Linked DNA regions of Homo sapiens. The protein of the gene in region 2 purifies or fractionates together with the protein of the main gene of each other region. This does not show direct contact. Each region holds a gene or a part of one and is shown on either strand. Other genes may lie near its edges. The genes, in order: CLCN5, VTI1A and VPS50.

Region 1 (3,656 bases), on a different chromosome or scaffold from region 2:
GAATGATTAACCAGGAGCAGCGCTCAATCCCAAACAGAGGATTTGGTACTAAGGAGTAAGAAGTGGAACAGAATGGAGGGGGAGTAATTGCACACAGGTAAAACTACAGAAAATGAAATAGTGGTTGGAATGATGATGGTGGCTCTGTAATTCCACCAAGTGTCCCCAGAGTGTGATTTTTTTTTAACTGCAATAAAGGTGGTATGAAATTGAGACAGGCACCTTTTCAATTGGATACAAGCACCTTTGGTGTCACCAGGCCTTGTCCATACCCCTGTGTCTTAGGATGGCTCTGCATTTTATTTAGAATTCTAAGGACTCTTGAGGGAGTCACAGCTGCCTATCCTGTTCCAACACCTTGAATATATTTGGAAGCATCCCAAGCCTAATTCATGATCATGGGGACAACACACTGGCCTGTTACACATACTTATCGCTGGGAGGTACAATGAGTGTCCAGTTATTTTAGTACTGGTGGTCTTTACAAAGGAATGCATGAGGATGCATATGCAGTTCTGAGTCTTCCCTGGTTTACCAGTATGCAGTCTAGACTTGGTTCCCTTTGCTGTTTTTACATATTCCAGAAGCCTAAAGCACCATCATTCATGGAGGTGGCATCTGGGTAAGAGAATTAGTTAGGACCTCACAAACATGTGAAACTCCTAGTCATTGACTTTGCTTAGAAGTTTACTAATTATTCATTTCAAGGAAGCTGGAAGAAATCATTCCTTGCTACTAACAAATTCACGGCAAAGTCCTTGTCTACCAGCTAACAAATGCCACCTGGAAAATTACCGTTTTTGCAGACAAGGAGAAAGCTCTATAACTTATCTTTGTGCACTTCAAAAGAGTACCAGCAACAAGCAAGCTATAAAAGTCAATCTCTCTAAATTCATTTAGAAGAGATTAACCAAAGCAGCATTGTCTTATAATCAGAAATTAAAATTAACATAAACATACACACATAACAAACTAATAATGCTAAATATTGTAACAGGAACAAGGATAACATTTGAACTGAATCTTCACAGTCTAGAAAATACCATTACTCTTTTCCTTCTGGCTTTCCTTTCTCTGGTTTGAAAAGCAAAGCCCCTTAGTTTACACTTCGTCTTCCAGTAACAACAGTTAGATCCCAAAAGAGTGACTTTTTCGTCGGTTTCCTACAGGTTATAGGTCAGGACGGTTGGAATTTCTCTTGCATAGTTTTCAGTGATTGCATATTGGCTAACTACTTTTTAAGTTAAAAAAATCTTTTAAAAAGCAAATATAATTAAACCATAGCAATCTTATTTATTCTTTCATGATATCTTCCTAATGTAACATCATGGAAGCCTAACTATAATTTCTCCTAAAGAGAAAATTAATTTCCAGAGATTATGTAGTGCAACTGGTTAACTTGTAGGAAAGAGACAACACACTAATGTGACTTCACCATCCAAATATGGAAAATGTGTTTTGGGTACCCAGTTAATACAACATATCCATGGTCTGTAATGTCCTTCCCGCTTTACATCCAGAACTCTATGATTCTAGTTGAAGAGAATGGAATCAGGATCTTGGTTCGCCATCTGTGCTATATGCTTTAACACATCCTTTTTGGTAATGATTCCAAGCAATCGCCTAAAAGACAAACACAATACAAAAAAACAAAAATAAATCTGTAGTTAAAATAGCATTCCCAAAGGTGATACTTGTCCTCCTCAGTCCTTTTCAACTTTGTCTTTGATCACTAGCTGCCCTTTCAGTATGAGATCACAGGAGTAGGACATGTGCCCCAGGCAAATAGGATGATGTGTGGATTCCTAAATGTATGCAAGTGTTTCTACCTCTAGGTCTCAGACCCTGCGATTTCCTCTGGTTTAAATACTCTTCGCTACATATCTGAATCTTATCTACTGCAGCCCAGTTCAAACGCCCCTATTCCAGAGCACCTTCCCTGATTCTATGAGCCAGCAGGAACTCTGCCCTCCTCACAGCAACAGCATGCACATTCTTTGCAGGCCTCCTCAGTGGCACTTGTCCTCTTTGCTATTGTACTATAACCACTGCTAGGTTCTTGCCTTCCTTAAAACACTGTCTGCTCCTTGAGGGCACAGAAGGGTCTTATTAATTTTTGTGTCTCCCTGGAATCCAGTGGAGTACCTTCTTACATGGAGCAGGGATTCAGCAGATGTTGAATGAACCAGTTAGGGAACTCCCCTTACTGATTTAAATCCTGCAAGGCATCTGTTACACCATTTAGAAATTTCAGATGTGAAATTCTTATATAATTGCTGGATTAACGTAGCATGTTTGGGAAAAAAATCCACCCCTCTCCTCAACCTCCTTTCTTTTCCAATAAAAATAGAAGGGTTCCCTTTACTGGATAAGAACTATCCCAGGAAGGAAAGAGCCATGGGCTTGGGAGTCAGAAGACTTGTGTTTAAAGCCTTTCTCTACTATTTATTAGCTGGAGAACTTTGTATAAATCTCACCTCACTGAAACTTGGTTTTCTCATCCTCAAGTAATAATAAGGAGATTGTAGGGAACAAACACCCAGCAAATACACTATTACCTGATGCTACTGTAATTTCAGTGCTGCCTATGCACAAAACACAGGTGTTTCCTTTGTCAGGGAGGAACTGGGTTATTTATAATATGCAACCAGCAGTTCACATCTCTCAAACACATGTTCTTTCCCAAACTCCCTTTACATTAATTATGATTTAAAAAAACCTATCCACTTTCATCTCAGAGCTTCAAGAAGTCCTAAAAGTGCTACTAATGTTCATTTAAACTGGGTTCTACTTCTTTCTACTTCTTTCTATCTCTGCATTCTCTTTCTCCCACAATTCAATTTGACTTCACTCAAGACTTCTTACCCGTTGTGTGTAACCAGGCACTGCCGCAGTCCCAGCTTTCGGAAAATATCCACTACGATCTCCATGGGTGTAAGGTCAGTCACAGTGAAGGGGCTGAGATCGAGGATGTTCCGAAGCTTTAGAGTGGGTGGAGTGTATGGTGGCAATGGAGGAGAATGCTCCGTGAAATAAATGATGGAAGTGCTAACAACCCCATCCTGTTTCTTTCGAGCATTTTCTATTCAAACAGAAGGAAAAAACAAATTGAAGATGGACGTGCTAGCTCTATCCTTCTGGCTCCTAACCAGTCCCCCCTTCCCTGTCTTCCCCCATTTCAGGCATATTTATTGAGTTCCACAGTGGATTCCACTATCCCCTTTCTGAAATCCTTACCAATTGAAATAATGAGATCTCTTCGGAGGACAAAGCCCACAAGTCTTTGGGACTCCCGGGATACCACCACTGGGAAGCCACTGTAAGTGGTTTCACTGATTATGGTCTCTACATCTTCCACAGTCATACTGTCCTGAGTAAGGACAGTCAACAAAGGATCATTTCTCCGGGGTTTCATCACATCCATTGCCAGGGTCTTATGAGCAAACTCTTCTTTGGCTTCAAGAAAGGGGTATCCATTGAGACGGATGTGGGCATCATAGATGCCCTCCCGCCCAAGAGCATCTGCCACCCACTTGCTTGTCATGGCTGCAGCCATCAGAGGCACGATGTATTCTAAGCCACCAGTCAGTTCAAACATTATGACAACAAGAGAAACAGTCATCCGAGTCACCCCACCTGCAAAGAAATAGACACAG
Region 2 (3,656 bases):
TGAGATTTTGCTACACTAATTTCAGGTCAGGGCCCGAGTTTATCACCAGTAAGTAAAATGTGCTGAGAAAGAGGAATGAGAGAACAGAGAAAAGAAAAAGAGATAGAGAAGTAAAAATATAAATGCAAGGTACTATGAGAGAAGATACTTTCTTCAGTGCCTAAAAATTTACAGCAAATTTTCAAGGACATTTTTCTCACAAGTCTTGAAAACTCTATACTGTTGAATTTTCAGACATTGTAGTAAGAACAATTAGAATATAACAGAATGTTTCCTGGGCAAAATGAAGGAGAAAAAAGAATGAGTTTTTAAAAAAAGCTTAAACATCTAGCCATGGCATATGTAAGAATAAACCTGTTTTTATTTTAAAAATTACATTTCTATAGCTTACAGATCTTGCATTGGCATTCCTGGTCTATTTACTCTTAGGAATCATTCTGACAGTGCATTTAAGCTTTCCAGATGTTTTACCTGTCATTCTACCAAAGACTACATTTAAAATGTAAAATATGATAGCAATGATAGGTGGCAATGATTCCCCAGGCTAACTCGAAAGTAACTCTAACAAAAATATGCATATCAGATAATATTGTGTGAATGGTCCTGGCTAGGTCAACTGCATTTAATACTGTCTGCTTTGTTTATACTACAGATTAGTTACAAAAGACCTCTTAGCAGCTCCACGCATAAGGAAGTTAACCATACTCATACTGGAAGGATAAACAAAATTCACTTTCTGAAGGAAACAATCTGAGTGCGTGTGTGTGTGTGTGCGCGCGCACGCGCGCATGTGTGTGAATGGGGGCAAATATAGGTAGTGTCGGGGAGAGAGGAAATTATTTGATTTGAGATTGTCAAACAGAATGGGTGTTAATCATCTATGCCATTCCTTCTTTTCTTTTCCTTTTTCTTTTTTTTTTTTTTTTGAGATGGAGTCTCACTCTGTCACCCAGGCTGGAGTGCAGTGATGTGACCTCGGCTCGCTGCAACCTTTCGCCTCCCAGGCTGAAGTGATTTTCATGCCTCAGCTTCCCAAGTAGCTGGGATTATTAGCTACTGCACCTGGCGAATTTTTTTTGTATTTTTTAGTAGAGGTGAGGTTTCACCATGTTGGCCAGGCTGGTTTCGAACTCCTGGCATCAAGTGATCTGCCTGCCTCGGTCTCCCAAAGTGTTGGGATTACGGGTGTGAGCCACCACACCTGGCTTATGCCATTTTTTTTATAAGCACTTTGCCAGCATATACAATGCAGCGGAGGAGCCAAGGTAAAGTAGTAACATATCCTGTAAATTTTTGTCAGTGGAGCTCTTAAGCTATAACTTTGTTACATTCCTGAGGCATTGTTCATATACTTTTAGAAACAAATGTACAATTAGTGATCAATCATTAACTCTTCAGAGGTAAAAGGAAATAGAATCATGATTTCTTTTTATTCTGACTGAATTTTGAAAATCTTAATTTTCATTTTTACAGATTGCCGACAGTTTGAACGAATAAGACTTTCTGCTCAAAGGTATAGAAAAAATACACACACAGACACACACATAAATACACACATATGAAGAGAGACATTTAAGTCTCCTAGTGATACTGTGACACTTTAAGACAGCCAATTATAATAATCAAATTTTGTGAAAGTCAATGAAAAGACCCATTTATTGGACCCAGTTACAACATAAATGGTCACTTGTTTCATGACCATTTTCATTATTATCTGAATTCCACTGTATTTAAACTCTGTCTACAGAGTTAGGAAATGAACAGTTTGTCCCTGGATGGCTCTCCATCACATGTCAGGATCGAAGAAAAATTACTTTCCAGGAAATCAGCCAGAGCTGTGTTCTGATGTCGAGTTTTACTATTATAATTTTGAATGAACCAATTTTCTCCTTTGTTTTCTTTCTTTTGGTAACATGGCATGCTTACATGAAGAGCAATTTCTTTTCGGTTGAAGCAGTTGCTGTCTCACTAAATTACATATTATATGTCAATGTTTTTGCACACCTTAGTTCTTTTCAAAATTTGTTTGTAATGATTCCATATACCATTTTCTATTTCCCTATTTTTTTTTCCAAACAGGTGGGCATTATAGCCATTTAACTCGTATTTTTTATTAGTTATTTGTTTTTCTGGTGTCCCTTTTAATGACCAGCAAGGACTAACTGGAGTTGTGGAATCTTCAATAGCTGCTTTGAGAATCCGTTAATTTTGTGAATTTCCATAGTACATTTTTATGCATACGTCCTCTACTACACTAAAGTACTCTGAAAGTGAGGATAAAATTGGTTTCATTTCAGGATCCCCGGCCCTGGCATACAGACATTAAATATTTACTAAGGAAATGAATAAGCAGAAGAAAGAAGAGAAGAAAGGAAAGAAGGAAGGAAATAGATGTTTATCTTATTTGAAGTTAATAAAATATTAAAAAGCATGAGTGGTAGATGATTATTTAGTGGCTGCTGGATTTTATAAACTTAATTTTTGTTGCTTACTTATTTTGATTTCTCCAATTCCTTTTGGTCAGTTTTACAGATAATCAAGTGGCCATACGCACAGATCTTGGTATCAATGGAACACTGGTTTCACCTGTCTTCACAACAGACCATACGTAAAATGGCTCAAATGATGAGCCGTGCCAAGCCATTTCTGTTCACTTTACAAATTTAAGAACAATCAAGGTTTAAAAAATTTTAAAAATAACCTGCAATCTTTCTTTTAAATAAAGCAACTCCTTGGTTTGGTATACTACAGAATATTTAACTATTTTCAGTCACACAGAATTTATCATATGAAAATAAGCTTATGTTATATGCAGGTAAATGCTCACACTTCACAAAGAGGACATTCATTTCTTTTATAGATTTGTGAAGGTGACAGATGAGTACAAGATTCAATAACATAACATTTCCTAAATCAGAAACGCTTGTTGACACACGATATAGCTATGCAGTTTTGGTAAGAAGAAGAGTAAGAGAATGTGGCTTTTCTTTCTGAAACACAAGCTCACAAGGGCTGGAAGTGAAAGCCATATGAATGGGAGGGTTGTAACAGGGAAAGCAAAATCAGAGCATTCAATAAAAGGCTTTGGTACATAAACCCTGCCTCTACTTCTCTAGAGAGAGCTTTTCCATGAGATAACCAAAATAATGAAGCAGAGAGGTTGGCAAAATGTTTGTGCCTTTTCAAGTCCAAAATACATTGTATATCATACGCGGCAGTAATTAGAAACTAAAACCACTGCATTTGGTCCCCAGAAAACCTGCCACGTTATGGCATTGGTTGAAAATATCTGAATATCCTGGCTGATACCAAGATCCCAGCTGTGCCTAGTGAAAAACATTGTCATGCATATGAACAGGTGGACTTAAGCATACCCTTGGTTCAGATGTAGCAAGGTGATGTCCATCTGGGAATTTTTATTTCTGTTCATACTCTAGACACATCCCAAAAGAAGATGAGTCAGTGATTGACTGAGTTTGCCTACAAAGAGAACCCCATGTAGATTTCACCAGAGTAATTTTCTTCCGTAGGCTTCTGAAACAACCACGTTATTATGATTTCCCTACAGAAAGCCCAGTCAAAGGTTGCAGAAGTTGTTTGTGCTTCACCCTCTCTAAATGACTTGCAAATTTATTCAAACACAATATGAGAAGATG
Region 3 (3,656 bases), on a different chromosome or scaffold from region 2:
TCTGCCTCAACCGCAAGTTTTCCATTACCCCCAGAATATCTAACCTACCCACCCTTCTCTCCCCGTCTCCCTCTCTCAGGCACACTTACCACTCCAAGAAATGAGAAAGCAATACATCACTTTCAGAATTATCTCCTCTACAAAGTCTTCCTAAATCCCTATGCTCCAAAGAACACAGTATTTCTCAGTATAACCCTTGGATCATGTCCATCAACACCACCCAGGGAACTTGTTAAAAGTAAGATTCCTAGGCCCTAAAATAAACCTAATGAATAGGTTTTTCTAGATTTGGGCCAGGAATGTGCATTTTCCCAAAACAATACCTCAGTAAGACATCTTCCAAGACAATACCTCAGCCAAAGTAGTAAAGTTTTAAATTTTAAATATATCTTTCTCTTCCAAACTTTAAGTCCTAAGGAAAGGGAGAGACAAAGTCCTATTTGCCTCTGCAGCCCAGTGGCTAGCAAAGTTCCAGAAACAGAGTAAACAACAAAGAAATGAGTAAATTATTAGGTAGAAGTCATTGGTCAGGCTCCAATCTCCCACAAATTAGCGCATTGTTCCCATGGGAACATGTAATTGACTGCAAAAAAATTTCTAGGAATGCTCGCTGGAAAAAAAAAAAAGGCCTAAGGAGGTTTAATATGCCTTTCAATGAGTGAGGGAGAAAAATAGTATGTTACTAGTCTTGGGCGGTTTGTTCTTCCCTGTCTCGAATTCTCACCAACAGTCATGAGGGAATAGCATCAAAACTGGTAAAGAAGGCAAGGCTGAGTTACCAAACTACACTTCTATATACATTATATATGCACACATGAAAGTAAAACTTCCCAATTTGATTCAAAATCATGACCACCCCTAAAATATATTTTTAAAATGTAATTGCCATGTCTTTTAAACAAACATTTTTCAAAGTACACATGCTCCTCGACTTACAATTGGGTTATGTTCCAATAAACCCATCATATGAGAACATATGGAAACATACAGAAGAAAACAGACACTGAGACTGCCTGAGGGTAGAGGGTAGGAGGAGAGAGAGGATCAGGAAAATAACTATTGGGTACCAGGCTTAATACTTGGGTGACAAAATAATCTGTACAACAAACCCCTGTGACACGAGTTTACCTATAGAACAAACTTGCATAGGTACCCTTGAACTAAAAATAAAAAAAATTTTTAAACCCATTATAAGTGGAAAATACATTTAATAATCTCAATAAAACCATCATAAACTCAAAAATTCATTAAGTGAAACCATAGTAAATCGGGGACCATCTGTATAGATTTGCTTAACTAATCTAACAGAAATCCCTGAAGAAATATATCATATTTAATTTCTCTTTCCCCAGAGCTAGTCCGTAAAGAAACCAATGCCTGAAATGTAAACGTGATATATACCAATATCTAGAAAAAGTAGTCACCACACAACAATTCAATACCAATACACGGCAAATTTCTGCCAAATGTACAAAATAAAAGTAATACAAATTGAAAACCCGTGTACATGTTAGGAGGATGTAGAGTGAAGTGATTATAGCAATGGGCTCTGGAGCAGACCACTTGAGTTTGTATCCTGACTTTCTTGCTGTGGTTTTGAACAACTTATCTATCCTTTCTGTGCATTATATTCTATGATCATTCATAGGCTATTATAAGAAGTAAAACAGGCCGGGCGTGGTGGCTCACGCCTGTAATCCCAGCACTTTGGGAGGCCGAGGCGGGCGGATCACGAGGTCAGGAGATGGAGACTATCCTGGCTAACACAGTGAAACCCCGTCTCTACTAAAAATACAAAAAAAAAAAATTAGCCGGGCGTGGTGGCGGGCGTCTGTAGTCCCAGCTACTTGAGAGGCTGAGGCAGGCGAATGGCATGAACCCGGGAGGCGGAGCTTGCAGTGAGCCGAGATCGCTCCACTGCACTCCAGCCTGGGCGACAGAGTGAGACTGTCTCGAAAAAAAAAAAAAAAAAAAAAAAAAAAAAAAAGAAGTAAAAGAGGTCATGTATGTGAGAAGCCAAAAATACTGTCTCATATATCTCAAGCATTCTGTGATGATTAACCATAATTCTTAATATTTTTATTATGACAGAAATGCTTTCCTTTTATCAAAACAGAAATGAAGAATTACATAAATGTCTCAAAGCACATCTGACATTCAACTGTACTTTAGAATTACAGATTTTTAACACTTTATCAGTTTTATAAACTTCTACTAACAAATGAAGTCATTCTTATTTTATCTTCATCTCTCTAAAGCATGAAGTCATGGTTTTAACTACAGTTCTCTGCCTTTATTAACACTTTGATGCTATCATTAACCACTATTTGATTTTCTTTTGTATTTGATGTTTGTGTTGATAATTCCCCAGTTTAGACATATAGAAAATTCAGCATAAATTAACACTCGCCTCTTCATTTACCCAAATCAGATTAACACTTCAGACTACTTCAGTTATGTCTACATTAATCCTCATTTTCCATTTACGAAACCAGCAACTATGTCTTATCCATCCAAAGAAGCATCTGTGATGATTTGTGTTTCCTTCTCCTTTCGGCAAAACTCAAGAGTGTTTACACCCAGTCCCTAATTTCTCTCCCCCTATTTTCTCCTGAACCCACTCTAATCAGGCTTTCCTCCCCACAACTTCATGAAAACTGCTGTAGTTGGGGCACCAAGGACCTCCACGCTGCTCAATCCAAAAGCACATTTCTCATTCTCACTCTCACCTTACTTGACCAATCTGCAGCATTTAACACAGCTAATCACTCCTTACTCTTTTAAATTCTTTACTTGGCTTCAAGGCAGTCTTCTTGGTTGTTCTCTTCATCCCACATTCATGCAACAAATATTTATTGAGCATCTGCTATATTCCAGGTGCCATTCAGGAAGCTAAAGACTTCTTACCTCACAAGCTGCATGTTCTCATTCTGCTTTCCTAGATCCACCACTTCCCCCTGAGTTTTTAACACTGGATTCTCAAAAGCTCCAACCTTAGATTCTTTGTATATCTACACTCATTCCACTGGTGATCTTAACCAGTTTATATGCAATCTACATGTTTGTAACTCCCAGAGTTTCAGCTATACCCTGGATTCGCCCCATAAATTCAGATTCATCTGGCCAACTGCCTGCTGTATCTCTCCAGTTGAATATTTAAGAGGCTTTCAAATTAACAAGTCCAAAAACCATGTCCCTTCCCTCAATCTGTTCCTCCCTCAGTTTTATCCATCCGAGGAAATGGCAATTACATTCTTCCAATTGCTAGGGCCAAACTATTTTGAGTCATCCTTGATGCTTCTCTTTCCCTCACAGCCCAAACCCAATCTGTCAGGAAATTCTGTCACCTCTACATTTACAGCATATTCACAGTCTGACCTCTTTCAACACTTCCACCACTAGGGTGGAAGGCTTACACCCACCCTCTCACCTGGATTACCACAGTAGCCTCATCATTCACCTCCCCTGGTTTTGCTCTTTTCCGCTCTTCAATCTGTTCTTAAAACATGGGTCCAAATGGTCTGTCTGAAGTGTTATGTCCAATTATATCATTCCTCTATTTGCCATTTCACTCAGAATGAAAGCCATGACCTTGCTATTACCTATAAGGTACTACATGATCTAGCTTCCTGCCTTCAGTCATCTAACCTCATCCT

The links.
Region 1: the proteins of VTI1A (region 2) and CLCN5 purify together in Homo sapiens (affinity purification with mass spectrometry; one large-scale study listed by BioGRID and IntAct). This does not show direct contact.
Region 3: the proteins of VTI1A (region 2) and VPS50 purify together in Homo sapiens (pull-down; one study listed by IntAct). This does not show direct contact.

What each region holds. Positions count from the first base shown.
Region 1 is NC_000023.11:50,090,096-50,093,751, reverse strand, and holds part of CLCN5 (H(+)/Cl(-) exchange transporter 5), read right to left. Parts: intron 3,637-3,656; coding exon 3,238-3,636; intron 3,083-3,237; coding exon 2,866-3,082; intron 1,624-2,865; coding exon 1,533-1,623; 3' UTR 1-1,532. UniProt on the Homo sapiens protein: Proton-coupled chloride transporter. Functions as antiport system and exchanges chloride ions against protons. Important for normal acidification of the endosome lumen. May play an important role in renal tubular function.
Region 2 is NC_000010.11:112,670,586-112,674,241, reverse strand, and holds part of VTI1A (vesicle transport through interaction with t-SNAREs homolog 1A), read right to left. Parts: intron 1-3,656. UniProt on the Homo sapiens protein: V-SNARE that mediates vesicle transport pathways through interactions with t-SNAREs on the target membrane. These interactions are proposed to mediate aspects of the specificity of vesicle trafficking and to promote fusion of the lipid bilayers.
Region 3 is NC_000007.14:93,235,269-93,238,924, reverse strand, and holds part of VPS50 (syndetin), read right to left. Parts: intron 1-3,656.